2 linked regions of the Homo sapiens genome follow. The protein of the gene in region 2 purifies or fractionates together with the protein of the main gene of each other region. This does not show direct contact. Each region holds a gene or a part of one and is shown on either strand. Other genes may lie near its edges. The genes, in order: SLC25A17 and ESYT2.

Evidence for each region.
Region 1: the proteins of ESYT2 (region 2) and SLC25A17 fractionate together in Homo sapiens (co-fractionation; one large-scale study listed by BioGRID). This does not show direct contact.

The regions. Positions count from the first base shown.
Region 1 is NC_000022.11:40,788,158-40,791,980, forward strand, and holds part of SLC25A17 (peroxisomal membrane protein PMP34), read right to left. Parts: intron 1-3,823.
Region 2 is NC_000007.14:158,822,882-158,826,704, forward strand, and holds part of ESYT2 (extended synaptotagmin-2), read right to left. Parts: intron 1-3,823. UniProt on the Homo sapiens protein: Tethers the endoplasmic reticulum to the cell membrane and promotes the formation of appositions between the endoplasmic reticulum and the cell membrane. Binds glycerophospholipids in a barrel-like domain and may play a role in cellular lipid transport.

The sequences.
Region 1 (3,823 bases), on a different chromosome or scaffold from region 2:
ACTAGTGACTTGCCTTTTTACCCATACTTATACGCATGTAATACCTTCCTAGTGGTACATCTTAATCAATATATATTTTTTAAATCTTGATTTTTAAATGAATCTTTTTAGTGCTATGACATGATGGGCTTAATTTAACAGATGAAGCATGATATGGTAACTACATTGTACTGTTTAAACTAATTCACAGCTGTAGGAAAATGTTTGATTTTTGAAATATAACCAAGATGAGGCTGGACAATAATAAACACTGGGCCGGGCGTTGCGGCTCATGCCTATAATCCCAGCACTTTGGGAGGCCAACGCAGACAGATCACGAGGTCAGGAGTTCGAGACCAGCCTGACCAACATGGTGAAACTCCATATCTACTAAAAATACAAAAATTAGCCAGGCGTGGTGGTGTGCGCCTGTAATTCCAGCTACTCAGGAGGCTGAGGCAGCAGAATCACTTGAACCTGGGAGGCAGAGGTCACAGTGAGCCAAGATCACGCCACTGCACTCCAGCCTGGGAGAGAGAGCGAGACTCCATCTCAAAAACTTAAAATAAAATAAAATAAAAACAAAACAAAACACTGAAATACTGGAAGACAGTGAATGAATAAATAATATGATTTTTCATCAGTGGCCATTCATTATTTTGCTTTTAGAAACCTGGAAGAAATTATCTTCTTTGAGTTTCAAATGTTCTGGTAAATCTAGTCATTTCTTAGCTTCCTCAAAAATCACCTTGAATTGCTGAAATAAGTGACTCTCATGAATCAAAGTTCTTTTCTGGTCTGAGGTAGCCAACAACGGCCACACTCAGGATTTCCCCATAGAAGTGCTCTTTGAAGGTATGCATGGTATGTGTTTCCATGGACTTCTTCGTATTCTCATAGTATGGGTTCCATCCTATGCTCACCACCATCTTCTGACCATCTCTACTTCCAGCACTGGCCCAACCATAATAAATGCCACTGGATATATCGGCTGGCAGATTATCTACCACTTGCTCAGGAAAATTAGCTGTGGGGGATGCCCAGCTGCTTGTAGCCACGGCCGAAGCCCCATACCACTTGGTCCCGGCAGGAGTATGACAGATGCTTCGTAATGCAGTCTGCTCGAGGCATGGGCTGCAGCCCGGTCCCTGCGTCCTACAGAGACACCGTCCACGCGGTGCCCGGACCCCGGACCAGCCACGGGGTGGGAAGGGGCGTGAGCTCTGTCTGCCGCGGGGGTGCACCAGGGGCCCGACGATGCCGATGACACGCCACGGAGGATCCCTGATGCCAGCGACTCAGGAGCTGGGTCTCCCAACCATTTTCATTTTCTTTCTTTCCTTCTTTCCCTACCTTTTAAAATATTTTATGTTTGTTTGTTTATTTAGAGGTAGAGTTTCCCTCTTGTTGCCCAGGCTGGAGTGCAGTGGCATGATCTTGGCTCACTGCAACCTCTGCCTGCCAGGTTCAAACAATTCTCCTGCCTCAGTCTCCCAAGTAGGTGGAATTACAGGCACCTGCTACCACACCTGGCTAATTTTTTGTATTTTCAGTAAAGGTGGGGTTTCACCATGTAGGCTAGGCTGTTCTCGAACTCCTGACCTCAGGTGATACACCCGCCTCAGCCTCTCAAAGTGCTGGGATTACAGGCGTGAGCCACCGCGCCTGGTCTAAAATTTATTTTTTATAGAGATGGGGTCTTGCTATGTTGCCCAGGCTGGTCTCAAACTGCGGGCTCAAGTGATCCTCCTGCCTTGACCTCCCAAACTGCTGGGATTACAGGGGTGAGCCACCACACCTGGCCTTGGACCATTTTCTGACAAGACAACAGATGATGCTCACAGTCAACACAGACCCGTAGACTCTCCTATGTGTCAACTGTAATCCTACCCCCTTCTCACACACTCAAGAAAACACTTTAGGCTGGGCGCGGTGGCTCACGCCTGTAATCCCAGCACTTTGGGAGGCCGAGGCAGGCAGATCACCTGAGGTCAGGAGTTTGAGACCAGCCTGGCCAACATGGTGAAACCCTATCTTTACTAAAAATATAAAAAATTAGCTGGGCATGGTGGTGGGTGCCTGTAATCCCAGCTACTCAGGTGGCTGAGGTAGGAAAATTGCTTGAACCCAGGAGGTGGAGGTTGCAGCAATCCAAGATTATGCCACTGCACTCCAGCCTGGGCAACAGAGTGAGACACAATCTCAAAAAAAAAAAAAAAAAAAAAAGTGGAAGAGTGAACTTTAAAGTTAAAATACAACAATTAAGGTTAGTAGGCTATTTATTATATGTGTTACTTTAACTGACTTTTTAAAATTGAGCCCTGAAAAAAAAAAGAAAAAAATTGTTCATGAGCCCTGAAAAAAAAATTTTAGACAAGTGGAAAAAAGTAAAAAATGAAAGCTAACTGCCCTACTATACCAGTCCAGCTGTGTTAGGTATGGGGGAGTCTGCTGTAATCCTAAATTGCACTAAGAGTTAGAAAGATGAACAGGACAGAGAGAGTAACACAGGGGTGGTATATATCTGGTGGGTAATGGGATGGCAGACACAGCAAATAAACCGCTTTGGACAATTTAAAAAGCAAAAGATTTCAACATATAGTCCATGAATTAGAAGTTTCATGGAAAGTTATATGAGTTAGTCCCTGTAAGTTATAATCTTTCAAATGCAAATACATATAAACTAATCTAAAATGATTAAAATCAAAGTATTACAAATAACTGGTCTCAAGTATAGAAGATCCCACTAGATTGCCATTTGTTGTAATTTATGTAAAAAACAAGTCTTTTTCTGTACAGGAACTATTCTAATTTTTTTCCCCAAGTGAACAAATCTCAAACTTGAGTTCTTTGAGTCGTGATACTCTTTGAAAACTACTCTCCTAGAAAGGCTGCAAAACTGTGCAAAGTGGGTTCATGAGGAAGACCTCAAAGGGAAGATCAGACTATAGTGCAATAGTCCAGGTGAGCAATGATAAGGTTTGATTTGGGGAAATGGCTATGGATATGGAGAAGAGGAAATGGATCCAAGAGACAGTGAGGAGACAGACCAGTGGTTCTTGATGGCCAAGCAGATGTGGAGGGTGGGAAGGCACGAAGAGCCTGTGATGACTCCTAGACTTCTATCCTGAGTTATTTATCCAAAATTCAACTTCTCTCCCCTTCTCTCTAAGCACATGGCTGGTTCCTCTGGCCACCAGCCTCCATCCTGAAGCTATCTAGGAGCCCACCAATAGTAACTTTATTAGCCTAAACTCAGAGATAGTTCAAAGGGGCTCATTAGGAATAACAAAAGATACTACTACTCAGGAAATTCCAATGGTTTTAGGAACTGTGCCAGGAACCAGGGACAAAGGCCACATACATTTTTTATTATACCACATACAGACATCCTACAACTTCAGAGCAAAAAAATGTAATAACCTGATTAAAAAATAGACAAAGAACCAGAACAGACATTTCTGCAAAGATAATATACAAATGGCCAACAAACATATGAAAAGTGATGTTCAGCATCACTAATCATCAGAGAAATGCAAATCAAAGCCACAGTGAGATATCACCTCATACCCATTAGGATGGCTACTATCATAAAACAGAAAGTAAGTGTTAGTGAGGATGTGGAAATATGGGAACTTCTGTGTACTGTTGGTGGGATTATAAATGTTACAGTGTTATGGAAAACAGTATGGAGGTTCCCGAGAAAACTGAACAGAATTCCAAATGATCCAGCAATCCCACTTCTGGGTATATATCCAGAAGAATGGAAAGCAGGCTCTCAAAGAGAGAGCTACACATCCATTTTCATAGCACTATTCACAACAGCCAAAAGATGGAAGCAACT
Region 2 (3,823 bases):
CCCCAAACTTAAGTTAGAACAATATTCCTTAAAAACTTTTACAGTTTTAGCTAGAATTCCGTAAGCAAAGGTGTACCTCACTTTGCACTATAACTGACCACCTTTTCATCCATTATTAAAAGAAATTCAGGCCAGGCATGGTGGCTCACGCCTGTAATCCTAGCACTTTGGGAGGCTGAGGCAGGCGGATTGCCTGAGCTTAGGAGTTCAAGACCAGCCTGGGCAACATGGTGAAACCCTGTCTGCACTATAATACAAAAGAAATTAGCTGGATGTGGCGGTGTGCGCCTGTAGTCCCAGATACTTGGGAGGCTGAGGCAGGAGAATTGCTTGAACCAGCGAGGCGGAGGTTGCAGTGACCCGAGATGGTGCCACTGTGCCCCAGCCTGGGCGACAGAGTGAGACTCTGTCTCAAAAAAAAAAAAAAAAAAAAAAAAAAAGACATTGGATTTTTTTTTTTTTAGAGACGGACTGTGGCTCTGTCGCCCAGGCTGGAGTGCAGTGGTGCGATCTCGGCTCACTGCAAGCTCCGCCTCCCAGTTTCATGCCATTCTCCTGCCTCAGCCTCCCGAGTAGCTGGGACTACAGGCGCACACCGCCACGCCCGGCTAATTTTTTGTATTTTTAGTAGAGACGGGGTCTCACCGTGTTAGCCAGGATGGTCTCAATCTCCTGACCTCGTGATCCACCTGCCTTGGCCTCCCAAAGAGCAGAGATTACAGGTGTGAGCCACCGCACCCAGCCCTGATGTCTATATTTTTTAACAGTGCTATTGAGACATAATTCACATACTCGTCAATGCACTCATTTAAAGTAAACAGTTTGATGGTTTTTAGTATATTCAGAATGTCTACTTCAAGGTTAAAGGCTGTGACCAATGTGGAAATCATGAAAGCCTACAGAAACGATCATAGGTTCATTAGGTCTAACAATAACACTATTCCATAACTGATCTTCACAGGATGGAAGTTTACATTTATGAATACGTACTTATAAAATATATTATGTTTTAAGTGTATATATCCATATAAACTATTTATATTTCAGTCCTAGCTCTATACCCTCCCATCCTTAAATGTAGAATGATAATAATATTAATCTTAAGTAGAAATTTTACTAAATCCACAACATACAGGCTGATGGATTGCATATATCCTAAATTTAAATCTATTTTTTAGCTTAAACTAAAAACCTGATATTTACTGCTTTATTTTTAGCCATCTTGGGGCATTAATGTTCTAACTGAAGGAGGTTCTCAGACCACAGAACTGAAGCAACAACGGTCACATCCTTTCCCTTCTGTGTCTCAGCCGCAGTGTGGGTGTGAACAAGAAACCCAAGCAGCATCCTCATCCTATCTGCAGCTACGATGAGGACTCCAACACTTCCTCAACCACATGACCACTCGGATTCAGGTGCTGAAGAAGCACTTGTTTAAAATAGCTAAATTGTGGCTCCTGAATTAGCTATGCCAACTATTTTCAGTTACAAGTCTTCACAATATTTTATTAAAGTATTAAGTCAATGATTAACACTGAGAATAAAAAAATATTTGCCCTTTCTTTACATGAGATCACAGTGCATTATTTTCTTCTGTTCATTTAGTTCTTAGACTATACATACCATATTTTTGCTAGAGTTAAATTTTCCTGAACTTCCCAGAAGGGCAATGGGAAGAAAGCTCTCCCCAGAGAAAGTTTGTATACAAAAGTACAGAACAACATAACCAAGGAAGCTAATATGCTTTAATTCTCAATAATCCAAGTATGAGGGTAATAAAAGACCAACTGTCAGAACAGTTAAGTAGTATTATCCGTGACAGTATTATCCATAGCAGCCATACAATCAGCATTTATTGGCAATAGTAAAAGCAGGATAGAGTCAGACTTTATCCTATGAAGAGATAATATTTTCAAATAAATAAAAATAGTAATGAAAAATTGCCCTTATTAATCTCTATAAAAACTCTTCAAGAATCTTCCTCACAGCCCTGAGCATGGTGGCATGCAACTGTAATCCCAGCTACTTGGGAGACTCACGTAGGTGGTTCGCTTGAGCCCAAGAGTTGAGCCCAAGAGTTCAAGCCTGGGGAACACAGCGAGAACCGCCTCTCTTTAAAAAACAAAAAAGGCTGGGCGCGGTGGTTCATGCCTGTAATCCCAGCACTTTGGGAGGCCAAGGCTGGTGGATCACCTGAGGTCAGGAGTTTGAGACCAGCCTGGCCAACATGGTGAAACCCTGTCTCTACTAAAAACACAAAAATTAGCCAGACGTGGTGACGGGCGCCTGTACTCCCAGCTACTTGGGAGGCTGAGGCAGGAGAGTCGCTTAAACCCGGGAGGCAGAGGTTGCGGTGAGCCGAGACCATGCCACTGCCCTTCATCCTGGGCAACAGAGTGAGACTCCGTCTCAAAAATAAATAAATAAATGAAATAATAAATAAATAAATCTTCTCTTCTTCACCCAGGGTAGTCTAATGGTCCAGGGCCCATTACCACAGGGTAGACACTTAAACAACAAAAAGCCCTGTCCTCAATTCATCCAGCCTGCCAGGCCTTTCCCCTAAGCAGTTGGAACATAACTGTTCATGGGAAAAGAAGTGAAGAATAACAACACTGTTTATATTAAAGCTGTAGGACCAAACTTACAGAATTATCACAGTTAAGTGAGAGCCATCTGTCACATCCTAATAGCCTCAATCAGGAACAGTACATATAGTTTCTCAAAGTATTAATACTCTTATCTCATTTCCATATCCAGCTTCAGTTTTTACTCAGTAAGAAGAAAAGCTGTCAGTGAATATATACAAAGGTGAGGTGAGGAAATTAGTATCTCCTTAATTCATGTTTTCCTATGTTTCCACTCTGCCATGAATTCACGGTTGTCAACGACACACTATGAAAACAAGTACAGCCTTTGGGATGTACAGATACATCTTGTTCAAGGCAAAATACCAGTCCAAAGTTCAGAAACCCCAAGCACCAATGTATGTATGGTAAAAATCAAGGTACTAGTAATATTGGCCAGGCATGGTGGCTCACACCTGTAATCCCCACACTTTAGGAAGTCTAAGTGGGAGGATGCCTCGAGGCCAAAAGTTTGAGACCAGCCTGGACAACGCGGTAAGAACTCATCTCTAGAAAAAAAAAAAAACAAAAACAAACCCAAAGTGCAAGTAATACTGAAATCTTAACTTTTCTTATTCATAGTTTCTTCTATTATTGATGTGCTTTGACCACCCCCACCACCCCTGCCGCGCAGCAGAATTTCAGGCACACTTCGAGACCATGCAACCTGCTGGTTTTATTATGAAAATAAAGTATATTACACTTTTAATAAATATCACAAAATAGATACATAAGTATAATTTAAAAGATATTTTTAAAATCTCTCTAAAACTGTCAACATAATCACTGTCAAGTTTCATGTGAATCCTTCAAGAAGCGTCTTAAGCATCCTAGGCACACTGAAGTTTACACATGTGGGATTATGAGCTCAAGTACAAATTTGGAATAAACAAGTAAAACATTCTGGAGAAAATATAAATTCTTCATGAGGTGAACACCACAGTTCATCAGTTTAAGTCACACAGATTAAAAACTTGAAAAGAATCTTTGGCTAAATTACTTTTGTATTTTTTTTTTTTTTAAAGAATTTCAGGCTGGGCGCAGTGGCTCACACCTGTAATCCCAGCACTTTAGGAGGCTGAGGCGGGTGGATCACGAGGTCAAGAGATCGAGACCATCCTGGCCAACATGGTGAAACCCAGTCTCTACTAAAAATACAAAAATTAACTGGGTGTGGTGGTGTGCGCCTGTAGTCC